Regions from separate parts of the Homo sapiens genome. Here region 1 is linked to region 2. Evidence: fine-mapped QTL for protein levels in blood plasma. A gene starts in region 2. The other region holds a variant in brackets. All regions are shown on one strand. Distances are from middle to middle.

Region 1 (16,431 bases), 400 kb before region 2:
ACAAGTTCCGGGTGGGCGTGGGCTTGGCAGCCCCGCACTCAGAGTGGCTGGCCAACCCTGCCTGCCCTGAGCAATAGGGGGCTTAGCACCCGGGCCAGCGGCTGCGGAGGGTGTGCTGGGTCCCTCAGCAGTGCCAGCCCACGGGTGCTGCGCTCGATTTCTCCCCGGGCCTTAGCTGCCTCCCCGCGGGGCAGGGCTCAGGACCTGCAGCCTGCCATGCCTGAGCCTCCCCCACCCTCTGTGGGTTCCCGTGCGGCCGGAGCCTCCCCAAAGAGCGCCGCCCCCTGCTCCATGGCGCCCAGTCCCATGGACCACCCAAGTGCTGAGGAATGCGGGTGCACTGCATGGGACTGGCAGGCAGCTCCACCTGCGGCCCGGTGGGGGATCCACTGGGTGAAGCCAGCTGGACTCCTGACTGGTGGGGACTTGGAGAACCTTTATGTCTAGCTAAGGGATTGTAAATACAGCAATTGGCACTCTGTATCTAGCTCAAGGTTTGTAAACACACCAATCAGCACCCTGTGTCTATCTCACGGTTTGTGAATGCACCAATCAACACTCTGTATCTAGCTACTCTAGTGGGGACGTGGAGAACCTTTGTGTCTAGCTCAGGGATTGTAAACCCACCAGTCAGCACCCTGTCAAAACAGACCACTTGGGTCTCTGTAAAATGGACCAATCAGCAGGATGTGGGTGGGGCCAGATAAGAGAATAAAAGCAGGCTGCTGGAGCCCGCAGTGGCAACCCGCTCAGGTCCCCTCCCACGCTGTGGAAGCATTGTTCTTTCACTGTTTGCAATAAATCTTGCTGCTGCTCGCTCTTTGGGTCCACACTGCCTTTATGAGCTACAACACTTACCGCCAAGGTCTGCAGCTTCACTCCTGAGCCAGCGAGACCACGAACCCACCAGAAGGAAGAAACTCCGAACACATCCAAACATCAGAAGGAACAAACTCCAGACACGCCGCCTTTAAGAACTGTAACACTGCGAGGGTCCGCGGCTTCATTCTTGAAGTCAGTGAGACCAAGAACCCACCAATTCCGGACACACTACCTTCCACCTTCCATGGAAGATGCAGGAAGCTGTGTGTTTCCCTAGTTTCTATTGCCCAGGAATACTTCTGATAAAACATTAAGAATGTGTTCCTGAATTCTTACCAAAAACGAAACCAAAACTGTAAAAGCACAACTGGTGTAATTCTGTAAGGAGAAATACAATCACCCCAGATGTAATTTAGAAATAACTAGAAGTGATTTGAACAAATTATTTAAATTTTTTATTTCTCCCAAGTAACCACCAGTTGTGAGGAACTTCTTTCGAAGTAGTAATAACAGATGGTACTTATTGAACATTCAGTATCTGCCAAATGCTGTTCTTAGCATTTTATATGTATTGATTCAGTGAATTCTTATAGTAGCCCTGTAAGGCAGAGTTGCTATAGAGATGAGGAAATGGTGGCACAGAGAGGTTAGGTAACATGCTCAAGGTGCTTAGTCCCTCTCCTGAACTGGCATGAAAGGTCTCTTCTGTTTAATTTATAAACAATGATAGAACAAATATTGATAGTTCATAGTGATAAAAATAAATAAACCTTTAGGAAAAGCTCTTCCTTACAGTAGAACCCCAAATAACAAATGTAGAAGAAATGATCAAATAGGAAAAACATCAATATGGAAACTAGTGGGTGAAATTTAAATGAGAAACAGTATATTTACATGGTCCAAAAATATCTCCCCACAAATTAGTTATTAATTATAAAGGGCAAAATAGTAAATTTATAGTGGATAAATCTAATAAATGTCATCTTAACAAAATGATCAATCTTAATATCATAAACATTAGGATAAATTGATATCCTGGGGTTCACAATATAAAGTATTCTGAGGGACACACTATTACTTCCAATATGTTCCCTCCAAAGATACATAATCTGATTTTAATTATTAACCAACATCAGAGAAATACAAAATGTGGGACAATTTGGAACAGAGTTGTAATCTTTACAAATATCTAGATCAAGAAGTCCAAAGAAATGCTGAGGAGCTGTTCAATGAAAAAGGAAATTAAAGAGATTGACAACAAAATGCAACCTGTGATCTTGGATTGAATTCTGAATGAAAAAAAAAAAAGAAATAATCATAAAGGACATTATTAGGATAATTTAAATTTGAGTTAATATGGAATCAATGTCAGATAAAAGTATTCAATGTTTAATTTCCTGATTTTGACAACTTGACTATGGTTTTATAAGAGAATATCCTTATTCTTAGGAAATAATCACTGAAGTATTCAGAGGCAGAGCTTTGCAATATCTGTAACTTTTCTCAAATTGTTCAGAGAGGGAGAAGGAATGATGAAGCAAGTAGGGTGAAAAGCTCATAGGATAACTTATGATTGAATCATTTGCCAAGTTATCCTGTAGATATTAATATAGATATATTTTTTATTTTGTTACTTAAACTTAAAAAATAATTGCTGGGAGTTATATCAAACACAAAATTTGCTTATTCTTAGCTTTGGTTTAGTAATTTCACTTTAGGGACTTATTCTAAGGAAATAATATAAAAGAGGCACAATTTTGTTACAAGGGTATTCATCAAAACTTATATGCAACTGCGGAAAACTGAAAACAACTCACACATCCAATAATAGAGTGTTGTTTTAGGATTATGCAGTCATGGCCGGGTGTGGTGGCTCACACCTGTAATCTCTGCACTTTGGGAGGCCAAGGCAGGCAAATCACGAGGTCAGGAGTTCAAGACCAGCCTGGCCAACATGATGAAACCCTGTCTCTGCTAAAAATACAAAAAATTAGCTGGGCGTAGTGGCGGGCACCTGTAATCCCAGCTACTCAGGAGGCTGAGGCAGGAGAATCACTTGAATTTGGGAGGTGGAGGTTGCAGTGAGCTGAGATCACGCCACTGCACTCCAGCCCGGGCGACAGAGTAAGACTCCATCTCAAAAAATATATATATATTATATACATATATAAAATATATATTATATATGATATATATATAATATAATACATGATATATAAAATATATATTATATATATATCATATATATAATGGAGTGATTAAAATGCTGCAGAATAATATTTAATGGCATGGAAAATGTCATTGTTAAGTGATAAAGACAAGATACACAATGGTACCCACAGAATGACCCCATTACTGTGTATACATACCCACAGTCACACGCATGAAAGATTGCAAAACTATAAATGAAAATGTTCATAGTGGTAATTTTAACATGTAAGGGAAAAAAGGTAACTTAAACTTACTTAACACTACTTTGAAAATTTGCTAAAACAAACTTATTATTTTGTAATTAAAACAAATAATTTTCTGTAGTCTAGCGTATGACTTAAAGAGGTATAAGTAGCCATAAATTTAAATGAAACTGTGAGCTTCTTATTAGATGTGTGCACATATGTAAACACCCACACCTTTATTACATGCTATAACTGGCTTCCAGTGACACAAGATCCTGCTACTGAGGTTGGTGAATGACATTGAAGCCTGACCCCTAAACTTGTCCTTTGGTGGAACGTACACCCAGGAAATCTCTTTTCCATAGTTGTAAACAGATGCATGACTGTTTTAAAGGGCCATGACCTCGTGGATTTGTTTCCTGGGAAAGTATCCCAAGCCTGAAACCAAGTGCTGCACATTCTCAAAAGAAAATGTAATAAGGTTGATTAGAATCTGTGGAAGAGGTGCAGTTCTTATATGCTAAATTTGCATTTTCTCTATGTAAAAGCTTTCAAAATAATTCAATTACTTATTTTATAATTTAATTTCCAAGGTTAATTCCTTACATGTATTTTATGACCTAAATTTTACAGGGTGGGCCTAGATTCAGAAACTCTTTCTGTTACAGTCTTTGTTTTAAGCCTTTTTACAACCTAGGTTGGTGCTAAGGAGGAATGACGAATTGCTATTAGTGTATTAATAATAAACATTGAATTCTTCTATTAACTACCAAAGAATAACAAAGGACCAGAAAACAAACACATACTAACTACTGGAGATTGCCCCCAACCTAACGAATACCACAGTGGAGATTCTCATATTAAGGATAACAAATTGTTACCCCTGAAACGTCAGCTAAGATTTGTATCCATTAGCCCAAAACCTCCTACTCATGATTTCTAAATTATACAACATTATCGACAGGTCCAGGAGACATCGTGTGCATTGCGGAAGAATGAATTTTCAATATAGCTAATGTGTATGTTCTTCAATTCAGATTTCTGTTCCATAGCCCCACCCATGTATAAAAAGGCCCTACCCACTGATAAGGGACATATTCATATTCCCACAGCCAGATTCTCCCACTCTAATCAAGACTGCATCTAATGTAAGCACATGACTCACTCACATTGGTCCCTTTCCTGAAACTCAGGGTGAGAGCCAACTCTCAGCTATCTGTGGTTGGAGTGACAGAGGTGACTGGAAGAAGCGAAAACCACTGGTATTCCCAACTTCCGTTTTAACTGATAATCTTAACCTCCTCCCTGATGTCAACTCTCCTTTACTAAAGATTGTAATGAACACAGAAAGGGCCCAAGAAAAAAGGACAAGGCCTGCTAATTCTAAAACTATATAATCAACAACTGAACAATTGAGGGCTTGTCACTTCCATTTTCTTTCATGGCTAATATTCTAAATAAGTACTCTCTACCAACAGCCGCCACCAACTCCCTTAATCTAGTGCAATTCTGCCTCCACTTTCATCACTCACTAAAAGCACTCTCTTTCAAGCTTCATGACATTCAGAGGTCAAAACCAGGGGCGTTTTTCTTCTTTCCCATTGTTTTCTAGATTTTTTTTTGTTAGACCGTGTTGACTATCACTGTAAATCTTGGATTTTTTTTTCTTTCTTCTGAGTTTCATGCCATTATGTTCTCCTAGATGTCCTGGTTATAACCATCAGCAAATCCTATTGATTTAAGTATAGTCTACTTATACTCCTAATTCAACACTTTCTCATTACTTCCACTACTGCTATCTTTCCCCTAACCATTTAGGTGGGTTATTAAAATACTCCCCACCTTATCTTTCAGTCTTGTCCTTTTTAGTCTACTTTCGGCAGAGCAGATAGACTGATCTTTTTGAATTATTTCATCACCCTACCTCCAGCCCTCTGATAGTTTCTTTTATTTATTTATTTATTTATTTATTTTGATTATACTTTAAGTTTTAGGGTACATGTGCACAACGTGCAGGTTTGTTACATATGTATACATGTGCCATGTTGGTGTGCTGCACCCATTAACTCGTCATTTAGCATTAGGTATATCTCCTAACGCTATCCCTCCCCCCTCCCCCCATCCCACAACAGTCCCCGGTGTGTGATGTTCCCCTTCCTGTGTTCATGTGTTCTCATTGTTCAATTCCCACCTATGTTCTTATTGCATTGTTAAGAAAAGGCAAAGACCTTACCAAATCTTATAGCCCCTAAAGTTTCTACCCTTGACTACCTCTCTGACTTCTCTTGCAACTGTCCATTGAGTATGCCCTGGGCCAGGCTGGTCTTACTGTCTTCTGAACATTAGAGTCCTTGCATTTATTGCTCCAAGCCAAGGATAGTTTGCCTCCACAAACTGTAGGGATGCCTCCTTGACCACCCTAGCTAAAGACACCCTGAAATTGTAGCATGTTATGTTTTACTACCTTATTTTATCACTAACCATGAGACCTTGGACATGTTACCCTGTGTCTCAATTTCCCCATCTGAAAAATGCATTTTAAATAAATAGTTACATACCTCATCAAGTGGTTAGAAGGATTTCATAAGTTATTGTATTTGAAAAGCTTAACAACAAATAGCCCTATACACGTTTGCAACTGTTGTTGTTATTAGTATTTATTTTCTTTCTTTTCCTGCTAGAATATAAATTTCAAGTTTTGTTTGTCATTTATCACTTATTCTCAAGATGTAAACAGTAAGACACATAATAAGCCCTCAATAAGTATTTGAATGATTGAATGAAGAAATTAAACGTTTAATTATTTGTTTTGTCTGCAAAATCTTCTTTTCTTTTACCCATTCCTTAGATAAAGTTTCTTTTATCACTTTACTGAGACTCAGTCACTGGTTTTCTTGGCATTTTTCCTCTACCCTCATACCTTTGGAGTGTTTAACTTGAAGTGATTCTTTGGCTTCAGCCATGGTTTCTGTGATGGGGGTTCTCAACATCACAGCTTTAGTCCAGACCGCATACCCAACTTCTGCATTGGGGGTTCATCTAAGGGGAGGGAAATTTGGCCTGGGGCTTAGAGGCTGCACTAGGATAGTGTATGAGTTCTGTGACTTTACTTGCTTTGTGATCTGGTGCAAATCACAACTTCTCTGGAGACCATATTCTTTTTTAGGTAATAATTATGAATCTTACCTTCTATATCAAAGTGTGTGTCGAAACAGATTTAATAGATGTGAAAGTATTTTGTAAATTGTAAAACAGTAAGTAATTTTGAAGTGTTGTCAGGTACCTCAAATATGCTATTTCTACTATATACCCTGCTGTTATCTTAGAGTCAACATATGGAAACCATTTTTCCTCCTTCCTAAACTCAATTCTTTCCAACTTTGCTTTCTCTCATTTCTCATATCCAATTACTAAACACCTGATTTTCCCTCTGTGACATATCTAAAATGCTCCTCCTGCTCTGTTCTCCCAGACATAATCCTAGTCTCAACTTTCTTCAGTTTACATCTAGGTCATTACAACACTCCATTAGTAGGTCTCTCTGCCTCCTGCCTCTCTCAAGTAGTGTTCTCAAATAATCTCATTTCAATCTTTCCAAAAAATTAACCATATTAGATTTCTTTTAATATCAACAAACTGCTATGATTTCAGTGACTTAAAACAATAGAATTTATTATCTTACAATTCAGAAGTCTAATAGATACCTGGGCTAAAGGAAGGTGTTGACACTGGGTGAAAATCGAGGTGTTGGCAGGGCTACATTCTGTTCTGAATAATATAGGGGAGAGTCTATTTTCTTGTCTTTACAAACTTTCATAGGCCACCAGTGTTTCTTGGCTTGGAACCCTCTTCCTTTGTCAGCAACTGTGAGTCAGGTCCTTCCTTTTCACATCACATCTCTCTGATGACAACTTGGAATGACTCTGTACTTTTGAGAACTCATGTGATTAGATTGGGCCTACCCATTTAATCCACAATCACCTCCTCATCTCAAGATCTGTAACCTTAATCATCAGTCATGTCCCTTTTACCATGGAAGGTAACATATTCATAGGTTCTGAGGATTAGAACACAGATATCTTTTGAGGTGAGGGGTATTGTTCTGCCTACCACACCAATTTATGGTGTCATTCCTCTGATTAAAAACTATAAATGATTCTCAATGGTCCATAAATGTAAAGCTTATCTTTTTCTTACATCTTTACTGAGCCTTCAAACTAAATTTGTAACTATTCTCAAATATAGATCCTCTGCTACTGTCAGGATAGTCTCCCTGACACATCGTAAACATGCTATGCTTTTTGTTAGTGTTTTTGCTGATTATTCTCCCATTTGAAATGTCCTACAATCTCTCCTTTGCTTATATCAAAGTCCTGTCATTTTTTCAAAGTCCAATTAAAGTCCTACCTCTTCAGTGAAACTTCCCCTCTCGAAGTTACCTTTCTCTAAATTATTTTGTATGATACTATCTACTACATATGGTGGACTTCTGCTATTTGTCTTTTCAGAATTTATTCATTCTTCTGGTAATAGCATTTTATTTTTCTTTGGGGGATTTTTTTTTCTTATTAGATACAGACTTTTGCTTTTCTCAGCTAAAGTGCCCTTCTTTGGCCAGGGGTGTACTCATATTCTCAGTTAGACAGTCATATGCTGTCTTCTTAGACCATGAGCTCCCAAGAAGTAAAATGGTTGGAATACACAACTTCTAGAAA[C/T]AACACACTGCTACCTAAATCACTAGAACTGTCCTGTTTTTTAGCTTTTACTCTAATTCTATTGACTGTCTCATATCTTTCCTATAAATGTTTTAGTTTCACCAGAATTGGTTTTTTCCCCTAAAAATCAAGAAACCCTAACTATTAAAGCCTCCACTGTTCTTTAAATGTTCTCATAACTTTGAATCTCTCTTCTAAGTTTTTTGCAAATGATAGTATATTTTATACTCTTTTGAATATTCCACAACCGTTTGCAAATTACTAGACACAGAAAAGCTTTTCAATAAATATTGATTAATTCATAAAGCACTGTTTTTATTATTTTTTAAGAATGCAGATTGTTTCTGATAGTAACTTGAAGGTCAGAAACATGACACATACTTCTTTGGAACACATCCTGCCATCCCCAGAAGAAGGGATGGTGCTGAGAATAATAGAAAAATCATTGATTCATAGATTAATTGGAAAGGTCATCATTGGTCAACAATATATGATTGTATTTTTATGTATATTTCATAACATCTGCTAGTATAACCAATCCCTTATCTGTTCTGTATCACTTAGTCACTTAGTCACATGTTCTCCATTCATTTAGCATGTAATGGATCCACGTACATTATCTGCATTAAATGAGCGTAAGTTTTGCTTATTTTCTTAATAGGTACTTTGCCCTACAAGCTAATAAGAAAATTATGGAAGTCTTTTCCCAAGTATTTCTCTGAAATTTAGATAAACTGAGCAGAGTATCTGTGTTTGATTTTGTATGACAGATAGTTAGCATTAGTGGGTGACCAGACAGGATATTTAAAAGTGATCCATGTTTTATGTCTTTTCTTAATGAATTCATGTTGGAACTTAATGAACAGCACATATATTTCATGTTTTATGACTGTTTAGGGAAAAATATGTTCTAGAATTGATCAGAGTCAAATTCAGTGCTTATAATTTTATCCTTTTGAAGACTCTGATATTCTGTTTAACTCCAGTTTCTTGGAATCTTTTTCCTCCCTCTGCATAATCTCTTCAAAATGACCAATTCTGCCACCATTGTAAAAGTTTAGGTTATTTCTCTCTGAAATCACTTGAAGATGAGTAATTTAGCAATTCCCAGAGAGAGAGATAGCAGGTTTTTGGTCTGAGATAAAAGAAAGATTGAGTTGAATTTTATTGAAATAGTAACTATATTGAAGAAACGTTTATAGGGGAATATTAGTTATTGATCGTGTCACCTTTGAATGCCTAGTGAATATGTAAGTGGAGATGTTAGGTAATCGGACACAGATATCTGGAACTCATGGCAAATATCTAGACTGGGAGAAATCAGTATATAGACAGCAATTAAAGATATGAAACTGTATGAAATGAAGTAGGGAGTGGCTATATGGAGAGAAAAATTACAATATTGAGCTCTGGGGCACTCTATTTTTGATAGGTCCATGGTAGAGAATAGGGAAATATTGAGGAAGATCTAGCTAAAGACTGAGAAGCAGGTAGAAAAGCAGATGAGTGTGATATCCTGGAAACCAAGAGAAAAAAAAGTGTTTCTAAGAGTTCTCTTCCTTAATCTTCTGGATTCTCAGACCTTGAACAAAATCAGTGTAATGATTCAATGACAATTCAAAGATTCTATTTTACAAGAATTTCTATTTCTCCCAAGAAAACTCTAAACTAGATCTGAGACTAACTCCTTATAATCTTCCTCTGCCTCTGACATGGCCCGAACATCAGTGGAATTAGGAGTGAGAAGACCTGAATTCTCATGACACCTCCACCTATTGCCAGTGGTGTGACCCAGGACAATTGCTTAACCTCCCTGTCAAAGGGTTGAAGCCATAGGTCCCTTCCCCAGCTGCAAGCTAATGAAGGATCCAAGGAGCTAAGGAATGGAGCAAGTACTCTGTAGGCTGCTGAATAAGTATACCAAGGAAGCCATCCATCACTGTGATGAAGGGTGGGAAGAATCAAGCTTGTCTGCTCTAAAGGCTCAGGGGAGCCAAGCCTCTTTGCAGAGGCTGAGAGAATCATAAGGCACCATTCTGGCTGATGAATCTTTTCAAATGCTACTTCCCAATAGGATATCTATTCTTTTTAGAAATACTCTTTTAAAATACTCTTTAAAATATTATTTTAAAAAATACTAACCCCAGGCTGGGCATGGTGGCTCATGCCTGTAATCCCAGCACTTTGGGAGGCGGAGGCGGGAAGATCACAAGGTCATGAGTTTGAGACCAGTCTGGCCAACATGGTGAAACCCTGTCTCTACTAAAAATACAAAAATTAGCCGGGCATGGTGGCACGTGACTGTAGTCCTAGCTACCCGGGAGGCTGAGGCAGGAGAATCGCTTGAACCCAGGAGGCGGAGGTTGTGGTGAGCCGAGATCGTGCCGCTGCATTCCTGCCTGGGCAATAGAGTGAGACTCCATCTCAAAATCAATCAATCAATCAATCAATCAATCAATCCTAACTCCTAGGATTTTTAAATACCAACACCTAGAATTTTATAACTAATGTGGCTCCTTCTATTACAAGAAATTCTTCACTATGCTGGCTATAAAACGTGATACATTTATAGAATGTTTTCCCAAATTAACACCATTGAGTCATTATGTCTACACACATTATATCCCTGTCACTGCTTTTAAACCCTTTAATGTATTGTGGGGAAAAAATTGCAAAAGAAAAAAAAAGAATGAGGCTGCATTGTCAGTGAAGATTTTGAATGCAAGATGTTCAATGCATTTTTATTTATTTCAATTTTTTTCAATTCCCAAGAAAAATAAATAAAAATTAATAATATCTTGTAAATTATCTATTTTCTCCTTCAATATCTTAAGGTACACAATTATCAAAGCTGATATTGAACACAAACAAATTGATACAATTCAGTAATCCGATAACATTCATAGTCAAATAAGTTACTTCAAATTGCATGCAATACAACTTTATGTTCCATAGCATCTTTAATAAAAACCGTTTACCAAAATGGCTCTTCAAACTTAAAAAGTGCAATTACAGAGTGCAAAATAAAAAGAAAATACATTATATTACATTTAACATCATCAAATTTGAATAACAGATATTTAAATGAAATTACTCTTTTTAAAAACATTAAAATATACACCAGAAATACTGTTTGTACAAGTCATTACTCCCCCTTCTCCCATATGAACAAGAATTTTTTAACGGTCAGAATATATTGGGCATCAAATTAAAAACTTTTTTTTCAAAAGTCTACAGAATGGATATTGGAGCAAAAATTACAAAGTGGGTCAGATACAGGTTTTTAAAAACTGCATTACTGAATTTAACAAAAGTCAGACACTAGAATCATATATTTGCTGCATAAAAGTTGATTTGATACCTGGTGGTGATTGAATTTAGTCTCAAAGACTCATAAATAAAAATCTGACTTAAGACGTAGTCATACCAGTATACCAATTCTCCCATCACTTTGACTTTCGGCAGAGAGATTAGAGCAAAAAATATTCAGGAGAACAGTGGAGTTACATTGTATTATGTATGTTTAATATAATATCAATTTTAAGGTTAAGGTTAAGGAAATCTTAATTTTAAGGTTAAACCTTGAGTACTAGTTATAGAACTTAATATTCCTGGTTAAAGAGTAAGTTAACTGGGTTATTATGTGGCCTTGGTTGAAGACCATAAATTATGCATTTATGCATTTGTGGTTGCTTTGGTTCTCAATACATTGAATATGCATAGCCCCTTCTAGAAATATATATAGTGAGAAATCTGTAAAATGGGGGAGTTAGACTAAGTGTGAACTAAAATCTTCCCACTGTGTACAGGACACATCAGCTGAGAGCAAATCAGTTTTTATGTTTACTCAGCACCATCCTCACTAAAACTATTATTTTTGTCTTATTTTCACCCATAAAAAGTAATGTGGGTCATACTTTATTATTTAATATGCATTTACAAAGATCTAACTATTTTAGGGATTAGCTTTTTTAAGCATTCTTAAAGATGAAAAATACAAAAATGACTTGTTTTTATGAATTGACATGCTTAAGATAAACTGACAAACCAAGATTGAGATGCTTACAATAAATCTTTTGTAAATGAAATAAATGGATTGCAGCTGATTTATTGAAAAGTCAATAGATTTTTTTGAAACAGCCAAGATCACTGAAAATATTCAGACTCTCCTCACATCTAGTAAGCGTTAATAAATACAGTTGTACCTTGGTATCCACAGGGGACTGATTCCCAGATCGCCCCCCTGCACATACTAAAATCGGGCACAGATGTTCAAGTCACTTATATAAAAGGGCATAGTGCTTGCATATAACCTATTCACATCCTCCTGTATACTTAAATCATCTTTACATTACTTGTAATACCTAATGTAAATGCTACGTGCGGTGGCTCACACCTGTAATCCCAGCAGTTTGGGAGGCTGTGGAGGGTGGATCTCAAGGTTAGGAGATTGAGACCATCCTGGCCAACATGGTGAAACCCCGCCTCTACTAAAAATACAAAAATTAGCTGGGCATGGTGGCATGCGCCTGTAGTCCCAGCTGCTCAGGAGGCTGAGGCAGGAGGATCTCTTGAACCCGGGAGGTGAGGTTGCAGTGAGCCGAGATCGTGCCACTGCACTCCAACCTGGGCAACAGAGCGAGACTCCATCTCAAAAAGAAAAAAAAAAAAGTAAATAGTTGTTATAATGTATTTTTTGTTGTTGTTGTATTATTTTTTAAGCATTTTCCGTCCTTGGTTGGTTGAATCCACAGATGTGGAACTAACCACAGAGGGCCAACTGTAAGTAGAGTATTTAAAATGTGTTCTTACATATTTTGACTTCAGCTGTATTAAATAGGAAACAGAAATAACTGTTTAGATCTAATTGATTTTTCTTTTCTCTTGTTTTTAAGTTTTATATAAATGGTTAGCAGAGCACCAAATGACTGCAATTCTATGATCCATTAAGGTCATGTATACATACATGTTTGTATATGAATATATATACAATATGTATATGACCATATATATTTACTTGTTTTTGTCTGTTTATTTTCCTAATAGTAAGGGCCAGGGCCAGGACTTTAGATGACAGTCGTGTGATTGCACCAGGGTATATAATGCATGGATACACATGGAGACAAGTCCTGGCACCTGGTGCTCCAGAGGTCAGCCATGGCTTATTATGCCTTCGTTTACCCTAGCACATGCCAGGATAAACGTAGAGGAAGAACAGATCCTCCCTGACCTGGTATGTGATCCAGGGAGACTCTACTCAAAGGTTTAGCATTCGATGAAGGAGCCTCCCATAAAATCCAAAAGTGGTGGCAGCAGTGGCTCCTTATGCAATAGCCCAAAAATACTCCTATTAACTCTCTGAGACCTATGGGCTCAGAGTGCAGAAGAAATCTTTGTCTCTTCCAAAAAATAAACAAATGTCAGGAAAATGAGCCCTAGTTTTCATCTCAGCCTCCACAGGAAGGTGTGTTTAAGTTTCTACATTTTAAAAGCTTTCAATTGAGATTTTTCATTTGGAAAAATACACCATATTAATTTTTAAGTTTTTTCCCATTTCCTGTGTCAAGATACAACTTTAAATACATAACTTTACATTCTAGAAGAAGCCATTTACTGAGCTGTATTAAAGTTAAAACTTCCTTGAATAAAAGATGAAATAACTGTATTTCCATCTTAAGACAACATGTAGAATTATTGTCTTCATATATTTTAAAATAATAATTAGTCCATCAAATTTTGGGCTGTGATTTAATGTTAGAATTCAGCAAAGCCCCTATAAAAAGAAATAGTCTAAAAATATTCTTAAAAAGCACAAATTTAGGCTTCAAGTGTGGACTTTTTTCTAATTGTCTGTTGAGCAATAATTACCTCACATAAATGTTGTAATATACAAAAAAGGAACATTGTGAAGCTATGAAATGCCCACTACTTAAATAAAAGATTACAGAAAATTGTTTTTCAATTCATTTTACATAGGCAGAATCTGGTAGATGAGTGACTAGTACCTGTAGGAGTCGTGAGTTGGCATAGGGAACTGTCCACTGCCCCTCATATAACAGAATTATAGCTGAGACCTGAGTGAAGAGACCATAGACTCCCCAGGGTTAGCTTGTTTCAAATGTGTAGTGTTTAACACAGGACCTATATTTGCTTCTCCCAAATTCTAATTGCATTATTGTTTTAATATATGATACCATGGTGCCAACTACATATCAAACCATGGTACAGTCAAACCAATTATCACTGATTTGAGGAACATAAAAAACATACTTACTAAATCGATTTGACTATATATATAGGCTTACAGAAATCTGTCATTTGCTAACAATTCTTGAGCTATGACCTGGGAATTGCTTACTTCTAAGCACTGTGCACCAGGCATATAAACTTTGAAGCTTTCAATGAAGCATTTAGCTCAGGAAATTACTTGTATAAAAATATCAATTTTCTTTTGATATTAAATATTTTCTGCACATTATACATTAGCAAATAGTCTGTCAAAAATAAAACAAAAATAAAAACATTTTTCAAGTACATTAAAATACAGTGTTATTGACCTAACACTTGACCCAACATAAATATTATTAATAAAATGGGAATATTAATATTAACCAGGCACACTGTTATCCCTGCCCATAAGTTTGATGGCGCCATTCAGACTTGCGGCAACTCTGGATCCCCTGAGGTAACTCTCTCATATTCCTTCTTTGGTTCTTTACTTTTTCGATTTCTGTACCTGGAAATATTCACAAACGAAACTGTTAGCACTGCAGTTAATAGCAAAGGAACAAGTGTGTTATATATGGACTCCAAAGGCACATTAGCATAGTGTTTCCAAAATGACAAAGTTGAACAGATTTAGGTTGGACAATGTTAAAAAAAAAAAAAAAAAGAGGGATGAAGAGGTGATGTGCTGTAGTCAAACAATTTTGGAATGAAATGATAAAATACACTTAAAGAGTTTCTCAAAGTCTTTAACGTGATCATGAATATTGTGAAATTCCAAGAGGCGTGTGGCCACATTTAAGTCTGAATTTTAGGTTTTCTTTTTCTGTCTCTCTTTCTTTTTCCTTCCTCCCTTCTAAGGAATGAATATTTACAAATCATGCTACATTAATACACTCTTTCCATCACATTGATATAATGCTATCACTAATCAAAATAAAAATAATATTTATCAGGCACTAATTTGGTGACCTACAATTTTCTAAGTGCTATACATGCATTATTTATTTTACTCTCACATTTGCTGTTACCATCCTCATCTTACAGATGAAGAAAGTGAAATACAAATGGGTTGTATATAATGTGCCCAAGGTCCAAGGTCTCATAGCTAGGATTCATAGATTTATCATAATTTAGAATCTTCTTTCATTTATTCATTAAGCTATTTTCCTAATATTTTTGAGTTTATTTTGTCCCTATTTTGGAAATAAGACATGTAGCTTTGAGGAAACCACATCATGTCTATGTTTACTGTAAGAATATGAATTAGAAAGAATTTGTTCTTCACTCTGGCATTTGTCAACTATATGAGCTGGGATATTTGAATGAACCTCTCTAAACCTCAGTGCCCCATCTATAAAGGAAAGGATTGTGGTCAAAGATTTGCAGGCATATTTCAGTTTTAATAATATTTAGTTCTGTCATGGCAACTTATTAGGAAGGCATTATTATTTGATGGATACTTAGAATCAAATGTGGACAAAATAAATTTAATATTATGAAAGTAGCACACTTTCAGACCTTCAAAATTGGAAGTGCACTACTTTCACAGAAAAATAAAAACGTAAATTCACCTTGAGTAATTTGTAACTGTTTCAAAATATGTTTCATGGAGACATTTTAAAGGGAACTGTTATTAATTAATTCACACTGTTCCCATCCTTTGCTCCTAACCCTTAAAAAAATGCCAAACTATACTTTCAATGTTCACTTTCTATTTTTCTGTTTTCAGCTTGTGACAATAATGCACATGAGGATGAGGTACGACTGTTTTGGGGGACTGACACAAACTATTTTTTAACAACCATTTTTTATAATTGTCTAGAAATAGTTCCACCAGTCTGCCTTAAACTGTAAGATAACCCAAGCTTCTAAGGTTATTAATTTACAAGGTTGTTTTTTATAAAATAAAAAATGTGACTTGAGGAATTAAATTCAGGTGGTTAACTATAACAGTAGCACCTATCCTATGATTTACTTTCACATGAAATATCATATTACATACTAAAAGCAACCACCCTATAACTAATGTAAGATAATAATTTCTGTCCATATTTGATAAAGAAGGGAATTGATACTCTCAATTTGACTTATGTAAGGTCACATAGGTAATAAGTATCAGAGCTGATAATAAAGTTCAATCCAGATGTTCTGCAGCAAAAACATATTTTTAAAAAATAATTTCAAGTTATTTCAGATTCGGGGGTACACATGCAGGTTTCTTAACAGGATATATTGTATGATGCTGAGATTAGGGGTACAGCTGATCCCAT
Region 2 (11,054 bases):
GAAACCTCTCCAACCCTTACTCCTACCTTTGAGGAGGACCCTTTTATACCCTCTCATAGCATTCTGTACTTTTCCTTCATGAAGTTTTCTCACCGAAGTTACTGTAGAGTTTATTGAGCCTGTGTGTTTATTGTCATCCGTTTAAGGTCTCTCTGTTCTAGCTTCATGTAAGCCTCATGAGGGCGGGGACAATGCTTATCAACTTCATCTCAGTTCCTAGGACAGTGCCTAGCACATACTAGGTATTCAAAAAGCAAGTGATTTTGGCTAAACAAGTCCCCTTGTCACTCTAAAATTAAAAGAGCAATTTCATTTAAATACATATTCTTAGGTTATACTTAACATTTCCCTATCTAAATGACAAATGAGGTTCTGTCTCATCCCAATCTTGATCAGTACTTCAACTTCCCTTGTCCCTCAAATTTACTATATAAATACCTAAGAATAGGTATTTATATGAAATTGCTCTTTTATGAAACACAAGAAAAGGAAAGAAAGAAGATTAATCATATTAGTATGTATGTACATACATTCACACTCCAGTTGGATTACATTATACATGTTTATATTGGCATGTACTTGTATATATTAGAATAGGCTATGAGTCTTTTTTTTTTTTTTTTTTTTTTTTTGAGACCAAGTCTCACTGTCGCCCAGGCTGGAGTGCAGTGGCATGATCTTGGCTCACTGCAACCTCTGCCTCCCAGGATCAAGTGATTCTCTTGCCTCGGCCTCCAGAGTAGCAGGGACTACAGGTGCGTGCCACCCTGCCCAGCTAATATTTTTGTAGTTTTAGCAGAGATGGGGTTTCACCATGTTGGCCAGGATGGTCTTGATCTCTTGACCTCATGATCTGCCCGCCTCATCCTCCCAAAGTGCTGGGATTACAGGCATAAGCCACCAGAGTCTTTTAAAGAAGCTCTGGAAACAATATACTCTCTGTATATTTTCTGTCAATTACATAGTACCTATCAAAATATATGATGTATTTTCCTTTGTATAAGTATTCATCAATCAAATATTAATTTATTGATATTAATCGATAATCCTGTTACATGCCTATTATCTTTGTAGGATCCTTATGATCTGGAAATTATAAAGATGAGGAACTTTCAGTCTAAGTTAAGGTTTTCTGCTGCAAATATACTCAGTTTTCCCACAGAACAAATATTTTCCAGTAAGAAGAGTGGAAGAAAGGGGAGAAGAGGTGAGGGGAAGAACTAGAAAAGAGAAGACTAGAGGAGACAAGGATGAGAGGAGGAGGGTGTTGGAAGGGACTATGACTTGCCTGTTTTTTCCTTTCTATTTTCTTCCTTCTCTCCTTTTCCTTCTTCTTCTCTTCCCTCCCCTTCCCTTGCCTACTCTCCTTCTCTCCCGCCATTCCTCATTTCTGCTTATTAGTGAGAAGTTAAATAATTATATTTAAAAGAGTAGGAGAAGAACGCAGGTGCCCCAGTAGAAATCACAACCAGCAGCCAACACCAACAACCTCTCATGTGAATTAAGCCATTAAAATGTTGTTTTAAATTATTTTATTATTTTTCTTATTCTTAAGAAAATGTTGTGGGTACATAGTAGCTGTATATATGTATGGGGTACATGAGCTGTTTTGATACAGGCATGCAATGTGAAATAAGCATATTGAGAATTAGGTATCCATCCCCTCAAGCATTTATCCTTTGGGTTACGAACAATCCAGTTACATTCTTTATGAGTTATTTTAAAATGTACAATTAAGTTATTATTGACTATTGTCACCCTATTGTCCCACTCTTTATTTCAGCCATTTCAGCTGCTCTTGACTGCACTCAAGTGAGCTTAGCAGAAGAAACTCACGCTAACATACAGAATTATCAGAAACAATAAATTAATATTTTAAGCCACTAACAATGAGGTCGACTTATTACACAACAAAAGAGGATTAATGGTACTTGTTAACAATGCTCTAGAACATTATGTTAGAATTTCCTTAATGAATGAGCATGTAAGGAAACTAGGTAACTTTCATATATTTGAGATTTAACAAATGATATTAATCAACATAATTTAAAACACAAATTCTGAGTCTGGCAAAACTTTGAAGTATTGTATATAATAGCGCCCAGAAAGATACTTCCCCTCAACTTCTTCACCCTCCCCACTGTCCTCCCATTTTCACCCCATGCTTCACCTCTGGGCAGTAGACAGTAAAACCTCAATTCACATCTGAACAATTCTTGTCAACTCATAGTTATACAGTAAGCACATTTGGTTTCAGCCCTTACAGAAAAACTTTTGATGGCTAGTATTTTAAATTTATTGATTAAGATACTTTAATGAACAGACTCAACATTGTACTATCCTTAGCATTTTTGGTACTAATTGCTTTTATGATTGATTTGCTTGTGCTAGTCTATTTCCTTCATACTTGAAAGAAGGATTTGGGAAATGTGCGTTAAAAATGTTCTGTGTGAGGCAGAGAAGTCATTTATGCCTTAATTTTATAGATAGTGGTCCTCCAATGTCTCTAGATATTTTCTTTTAAAATAGCTAACATAAAATGTGCTTTGAGTCTTAGATAATTTGCTTGCTTCCTTCATGACTCTGCTATTTATAAGATGACTTAAAGAAAAAAGAGCTAAAATAACTTAGCACCCCCCAACACACACATATACAAACCCACAATGACAATGTAAGATTAATAAAAAGGCTGTCAAGTTATTTTAAAAACAAGGAACAAAATAACTCTTCTCTAATTCTAGCATTTATTTAAACAATAATTTTGCATAACAGTATGCTTTTAACTGAATAAGTTTTTAAAAACATCTTTTAACCAGTTTTGTACACTCAGTTTATCATCATCTTTACTGTGTTTCTCAACGTGGAAATGGAAGGGAATGATGCAAATGACAGTAACAGCAATTAACAGCAGCAGTTGTCATCATAGCAGCAAGAGTAGAGTATTTTTCATATCCCATTGCTTTCCACAAATATTTTAGGCCTGACTTTTAAAAAATAAATAATTAAATGACCAAGTCATGCAAAGAGAACTTCGTAAAACCTGTTAGGAAGTTCAGGCTTAATCAACTGATGCTTAATCAATATTTTTTGAGTTAATAAAAACTAGCAAAATATTGTTTTATATCAAATGCTGACTGATATCCTTAAGAAATTTTGATGACTCAAGAAATCTGTTACTACTTCCTCACGAATTTTGCCGACGATGTGTCTTTCGTGACAAGCCACATTTGTTGATTAAGACAATGACTCCATGATACTGGAGTCACCTCTTTCCTGGTATTAACCCACCAGTTGGTTTCCTGGTAGGAAAGAGCCTACCTTTTTCCTGGTATCAACTCACTCAAAAGCATCATTACTTCAGAAAACTTTTCATACAGTTTTCTTAAAACGATTAGGAACTTTTAGGAAATCTTACTAATGAACGAGGAAAGAAATCTGGATAACGTTAAGTAGGGGGAAAAAAGGTGTCCAGTGAAGCCAATAAACATTTTCAGCAATGTATTTTGGTGTTGAACAGAAAATGAAATATACTATGAATAGTGTTAAAAAAAAAACCTTTATATCTTGTTCTGGAAATGGCTTTGATCTTATGTTTGAAAATGTATATGACTTGCGAATTCACAATATCTCAATCTCAATAATGAAGAAAAGCTATAAAGTCACCCCACAGGAGGAAAGAGAAAGAAGTCTGCTCCCCTCATTTTGTGTCCTGCTGAGCTTATCTCTGCAATTAACTCCACATCTCAACTCTCAGAAGACTCCGAACTCTCAGCTTACACCCTTCCTTTAAGCTTGCTTAAGACTAGAAATTTCTATGTTGTGACAGGGAGAAAAATCATTCCAATTAAATATGCTCTACTGCTAAACTCTAATTTAAAGAAAACAATAAATGAGGTGGAGAAAAATAAGAAATACATTCATCAACTGAAACTAAGGCTAGTGAGGCAGAAATAATTTTATACATGTTTATTGAAAGCCAACTGGGAAGACAGACCTGGGAAGACACATCCACAAAGTTGGGGGTGTTCTAGAGTCTTTCACAAGTTACAAGGGCTTTATATAATAGAAAAGCTTAAAATAAGGCAGAAAAACTCCTCATACCAGAGTTGTCTTCTTTTTCATTGGAGGGTACAATACCGAAGTTAAAATCATTAGCTACAGATTACAGCATACAGGCTAAATGTCTACATACAAAACAATCAATAAAACTTTTTGTTTCAGCTAAACTTAGAAATAAATCATTGTCCTATTTAGTGTCAGTAGGTTCTACAGTAATTAGTACATCAATCATTTGAGGAACTCGTAATAAAATACTTTACTCAGAGATAGAATGTCACCATCAAGTCACGAAACCTTTCCAGGGCGAGTTAATTTGGAAGTCTGCTTACTTCTAAAGTAAACTGTCAAATGTGGTCTGTAGGTTATCGCATTTAAAAACAGGACCTGAGAACTTGAGTAGACATAGTAGATAACTATTAAACAATAGGGAAAATTGGCTTGAAAACAAAAACATGATTTAAAAAATTACTATATTCATCTTTTTGATAGAGAGTAATTTTGAACATTTAGTATTTTAAGCATTTCTTCTAAAATTTAAGGATATGAAAAGTAAGAAAAGAATATGGAAAATTTAAATAATATTCTGTGAGACTTATACATAGTTGTAAAAGGAAGAAAACTTGTTGCCAGTGCCACTTACATCTGCCTCTTCTTTATTGACAATCTTCCAAATAAATTTAAATAGCATAGTTGCTTTGGGTCCTGTCGAGTTTGGCCTGGAATTGTAGGTGATTAGAAAGGATAGGGAAGCTTTCATGTGATACGTATTCATTGATTTATTAATTATTTAAGACCTACTTTATATTGAAGTATCCTACATGTTATAGGATACATGAGACATTCAAACAAACACAGGACATGCCACTCCCTACAAAAGTGCATGGTTCAATTGAGGAAGGAAGTCTTACAGATGGGACAGAGAACCAGAAAATAACATAAAGCCAACATGTAATGTGTAGGTCCACCTCTCTATCTTTGTAGGGATATAGCATTTCAGACCAAAACCTTTAATTTGGGTCTGAGAATTCAGGAACAAATATTTTCCTTGGTAAGGACATTTCTTGCACAATTTCTAATAGTGCAAAATTGGAAACACCGTGAAGGGCACCAACAAGGCAAGGTTGAGTAACTATTGTTCTTATCACAGGACGTCACATGGTCATTAAGAAGAATGGGGGAAAACTACATTAAGATGACCTGAAAAGATAAGGAACACATATTTTTTGAAGGATAAAAGTCAGCTGTATAGTGATCCATATACAATACTTCTATGTATATGTGTACCTCTATGTCTTAAACGTGTCTCATTGTATACATATACATGTGTGCATATAAGTGCAGACAGAATTGAAAACTAATGCAAAATTGTTACCAGTGTTTACCACTGAATAGTAGGAATGTGGAGAAATGATGAAGAGAAATTTGTGTTTTATTTCAAAGACATCTGCAGCATACGAATCTTTTGCAATAAATTATATAATTTTTCTGTTAAATTAAAAATAAAAAGAAAAATAAATATGCTGGGTCCTACTTTTTAGGTATTCTTAGGTGGTAGAAACAAGTAGCTTCTTTTGTAATATAAAGGAGGATGAGTTTCATTTGTAGTTTCTAGATGAAATTACAAAAGATAATATAGATTGAAGGCAGAAAGAATCCAATAAGCTAAAATCCAAAGACAACCTTTGACGGTAATTGGCTCTTATTTTACTTACATGCTCCAAACCAATCCCAATATTTATCAACATTCATGAAAAGAACATTTGCTTTCTTTGGCAAGCAAAGATAACTTTCTCTTTCAAGGGCCACATGTTTGTGCCTTCAGGTGCTCCTAAAGTTTCTATTAAGCCTAAAAACTGCAGTATAGAAAAGGCAGGGCGTATTGTTATAAATCATACAAAGAAAATGCATGTAGTATTTCAGTCTAGTTCTTACCTTCCTGAACGGAGTTCTTACACAGGTGTAAGGAAGATAAGTATTGAGAAAGGGAGAGTGGGAATGTGAAGTGATGCACATTAAGCAAGTTAGTAGGAATTTGACCTGTCTGGTCTTTCTCTGGGTTGGGCACAGCTTCAAATGCTTATGTGTGTATCACCACATACCCTCACTTCCTCCTTTCCTACCTCTTCCTTCTTACTGGCTTTGAGAAAGAGCATATAAATGACATCTTCAGGGCATGAGAAGCCACTTATCTGCAGACTTGTAGGCAGCAACTCACCCTCACTCAGAGGTCTTCTGGTTCTGGAAACAACTCTAGCTCAGCCTTCTCCACCATGAGCCTCAGACTTGATACCACCCCTTCCTGTAACAGTGCGAGACCACTTCATGCCTTGCAGGTGCTGCTGCTTCTGTCATTGCTGCTGACTGCTCTGGCTTCCTCCACCAAAGGACAAACTAAGAGAAACTTGGCGAAAGGCAAAGGTAGAGGCCCTGCTTCTCTGCACTTGTTGCTGCTTCTGCTACACCTGTCTCTGGGGTAAAGACTAGCTTGGTGCCTTTGGGGCTGGAGAGGGCCATTATACCAATAACTCCAATTGGAGGAGACACACAGGGGGGTCACTTCTCACTTCTTGTGTGCTGGGCAATCTTCTGGGCACTTTACTAAAGCGTTACAGATCATATTCACAATGGCTTTATGAGAGAGGTACAATTGCCCTCAATCTGCAAATAAGAGACCTGAGGAAAATATTCATGACCACCAATAGGTCACATTTTCTACCCTAGAGGAAAGTCTAGACAGTGACTTGTATGCTGAACTCCGCTGCATGTGTATAAAGACAACCTCTGGAATTCATCCCAAAAACATCCAAAGTTTGGAAGTGATCGGGAAAGGAACCCATTGCAACCAAGTCGAAGTGATGTAAGTTGCTGTTTCTGTGCTATTGCCTTATCAGAGAAACCCTCTACCTCCATCCACATATGCACTCGTTTCCTCCAGTCTCATGGATTAGTTCTGATATTCAGATCAGGACACCCACAGATAACCCTGTTCTCTTTTGCAGAGCCACACTGAAGGATGGGAGGAAAATCTGCCTGGACCCAGATGCTCCCAGAATCAAGAAAATTGTACAGAAAAAATTGGCAGGTGATGAATCTGCTGATTAATTTGTTCTGTTTCTGCCAAACTTCTTTAACTCCCAGGAAGGGTAGAATTTTGAAACCTTGATTTTCTAGAGTTCTCATTTATTCAGGATACCTATTCTTACTGTATTAAAATTTGGATATGTGTTTCATTCTGTCTCAAAAATCACATTTTATTCTGAGAAGGTTGGTTAAAAGATGGCAGAAAGAAGATGAAAATAAATAAGCCTGGTTTCAACCCTCTAATTCTTGCCTAAACATTGGACTGTACTTTGCATTTTTTTCTTTAAAAATTTCTATTCTAACACAACTTGGTTGATTTTTCCTGGTCTACTTTATGGTTATTAGACATACTCATGGGTATTATTAGATTTCATAATGGTCAATGATAATAGGAATTACATGGAGCCCAACAGAGAATATTTGCTCAATACATTTTTGTTAATATATTTAGGAACTTAATGGAGTCTCTCAGTGTCTTAGTCCTAGGATGTCTTATTTAAAATACTCCCTGAAAGTTTATTCTGATGTTTATTTTAGCCATCAAACACTAAAATAATAAATTGGTGAATATGAATCTTATAAACTGTGGTTAGCTGGTTTAAAGTGAATATATTTGCCACTAGTAGAACAAAAATAGATGATGAAAATGAATTAACATATCTACATAGTTATAATTCTATCATTAGAATGAGCCTTATAAATAAGTACAATATAGGACTTCAACCTTACTAGACTCCTAATTCTAAATTCTACTTTTTTCATCAACAGAACTTTCATTCATTTTTTAAACCCTAAAACTTATACCCACACTATTCTTACAAAAATATTCACATGAAATAAAAATTTGCTATTGACTTGTTGTCATCTATTATTAATTTTAACAGGATTGTTGGGGAAAAAAAGCTTTAATTTTCCTCTCTTTTTTGTATACTTGGTATTTCACAGTTTGAACAACAAAAGTTACTAAATTGATGATCGGTGTCATTCTTAATGTAGTATGATAACAGTTCCAATTTATTAATCATTTTAATATGCCAGGAATACTAAGTGTTTTCCATGCATGAACTAAACAATTTTTTAAAAGATAGATATGATCTGGTTAAAAGAACATCCTCTGGAGTTTGAATAATGAGGTAACCTGGCTCTGCCACTTGTTAGCTGTGTATATCAGGTCATGTTGCTTAATTTCTCTGTACCTTAGGTTCTTCATCCCTAAAATGGGGATAATATTGCCTCCCTCATAGAGTTTATGGAAGGATTAAAAAAGTTAATAAATTTAAGGTATTTAAAATAATGTGTGTCATAAATAAGCCACACATAAATGTTAGTAATTATTTCTTATGATTATTATTATCCTCCCCAGTGTTACAGAAGAGAAAAATCAAGTTTATAGAGTTTAAAATACTTGCCCACTTTCAGATAACTAAGTAGGTAACAGAGTGGGAATTTCAAATTGTGCTCTTAACCACCACACCACAGTGCTTTCCTCAACTCTTCTTTCTCTAATGAAGAGATTACATTACATATAACATAGTATTATTCACACATGTAATACAACTTGATACATAAATAGCATACTGTATATACTATAATAATTATAGGGTATCAGGCATCTCACTCATTATGTTTAGTGGTTTCCCACTGAAACTTGACAAGACCAGCTCCTGAGACATGGCACAGTGTTGACACCATGCTTATACCTCCCGAGATGCAGATGTCTTCTGTTTTTGAGTGCATGTATTGAGTTACTCTGTTTACATGCAGAGAAAGAATGATTCAGTTGCCACTCAGGACCACCTGGATTCCTTTACACTGCAAACATTAAAATCTGGGTGTAAGACTGTAAAAACCCAGCGTGTTGCCCATCCATATGCAAAATCATCCCTCCCCTTCATTCTCTCTGCTGTTAACTCAGAAGGGGCTTCAAGTTTCAGGTTCATAAACACATATGAATTACAAAACATTCTGCAACAGCCATTGTGTTGGATACAGGATATTCAAAAATACAGTCATGTTTTGCTTAACAATTGGGATACATTCCGAGAAATGCATCATTAGGTGATTTTGTCATTGTGTGAACATCACAGGGTGTGCTTACACAAACCTAAATGGTATAGCCTACTACAAACCTAGGCTATATAGTACAGCCTATTGCTCCTAGGCTATAAGCCTGTACAGCATGTTACAGTGCTGAATACCATAGGAAGTTGTAACACAATGGTGAATATCTGAGTATCTAAACATCTGTAAATGTAGAAAGATATAGTAAAATTATGGTATAAAAGAGTAAAATGGTACACCTCTGTAGGGCAGTTACCACAAATGGAGCTTGTAGGACTGGAAGTGGCTCTGGATGAGTCGGAGTGTGAGTGGTGAGTGAATGTGAAGGCCTAGGACATGACTGTACACTTCTTTAGGCTTTGTAAACACTGTACACACTTAGGCTACACTAAATTTATAAAAAATATTTTTTCCTCAACAATAAATTAACCTTAGATTACTGTGTTTTTTATTTATAAACTTCTTAATTTTTAAACTTTTTGACTTTCGTAATAACACTTTAAACGCATTGTACAACTGTACAAAAACGTTTTTTCTTTATATCGTCATTTTATAAGCTCGTTTTCTTTTTTATCTAGTTATTTATTTATTTTAGAGAAGAGGTCTTTCTCTGTCACCCACACTGTAGTGCAGTGACATGATCATAGCTCTCTGCAGCTTCAAACTCTTGGGATCAAGTGATCTTCCTTGATCTTCACTAAAGATGTGCACCATCATGCCCAGCTAATTTTTGAAAATTGTTATTGAGAAGGGAACTGATTAGGTACCCAGGATGCTCTCGAACTCCTGGTCTCAAGCGATCCTCCTGCCCCAGCCTCTCAGGCTGGGATTACACTCATGAGCCATAGAGCCTGGCTAATTGTTTTTTGTTTTGTTTTGTATTTTTTATTTTTCACACTTTTCTGTTAAAAATTAAGATGCAAAAACACATATCAGCCTAGGCCTACACGGAGTCAGGATCATCAGTATCACTATCTTCCAGCTCCTTGTTTTGTCCCACTAGAAGCTCTTCATGGGCAATAATATGCATGGAGCTGCCATCTCCTATGACAACAGACAGATGATAACAACTCATACTTCCTGAAGGATCTATCTGAGACTGTTTCACGGTTAATGTTTTTTCTATAACTAGTAGAAAGAGTATATTCTAAAATAATAATAAAAAGTATAGTATAGTAAATACATAAACCAGTAACATAGTTGTTTGTTATTCTTATCAAGTATTGTGTACTATACATAATTTTATGTGCTATACTTTTATAGAACTGGCAGTGAATGGGTTTGTTTACACCAGCATCCCCACAAACATGTCAGTAATACACTGCTTCCTATGACTTTACAACCATGAGGCAATGCGAATCACATCACTAGGCAACAGGAATTTATCAGCTCCATTATAATCTTATGGGACCATTGTCATATATGCAGTCTATTGTTGACCTAAATGTTATGTGCTGCACTACTGTATGTAAGTCACAGAGAATTGCACTTGAAAAGATCACTATGTGGTGGGAGAGGCAGATAAGTAGGCAAATAATTGCAACTATATATTACACATGTTAATATAGAGGTATACTTCAATTGCTTGAAGGAGCAAATACATGGATATGTTAAAACTTCATCATCATCATTTTCAACACATCATCTTCGCTAATGTGGCACTTTGAATTGAGTCTCTACCAGTACACTGAAACAGTGATAAATGTTATAATCTCTGATTTCATAGTGTTTTCCAGTTTAGGAAACAAAACCATTTTTAACACTATGAAATACACACATACACACACACACATACGTATCTCTGTGTAATATATATATATGTGTGTGTGTGTGTGTGTGTGTGTGTTACCTGT

Direction of the effects. Positions count from the first base shown, and alleles are read on the strand shown. Strength reflects both the effect of a copy and how common the allele is.
With allele C in place of T in region 1, the plasma level of the protein whose gene starts at base 6,243 in region 2 is higher (weak association).

The links. PIP is the chance, under the fine-mapping model, that this variant and not a neighbour inherited with it causes the effect. Protein levels are from antibody-based Olink assays in UK Biobank. Linkage for the fine-mapping came from a reference panel and not from the study's own genotypes, which makes the PIPs less certain.
Region 1: its variant is fine-mapped to the plasma level of the PPBP protein (UK Biobank, PIP above 0.99).

The regions. Positions count from the first base shown.
Region 1 is chr4:74,382,965-74,399,395 of GRCh38, reverse strand. EREG (epiregulin) reads right to left here. Exons shown (of 5, transcript NM_001432.3): 5 at 10,647-14,669. The coding sequence ends at 14,588. Among named protein-coding and RNA genes, the nearest start is that of EREG, 26 kb to the right of the region's middle. The variant C/T (reference allele first, on the strand shown) is at 7,934.
Region 2 is chr4:73,983,379-73,994,432 of GRCh38, reverse strand. PPBP (pro-platelet basic protein) reads left to right here and starts at 6,243. Exons shown (of 3, transcript NM_002704.3): 1 at 6,243-6,477; 2 at 6,781-6,916; 3 at 7,059-7,994. The coding sequence starts at 6,330. The coding sequence ends at 7,161. RefSeq lists enhancers at 8,564-9,076, 9,077-9,590.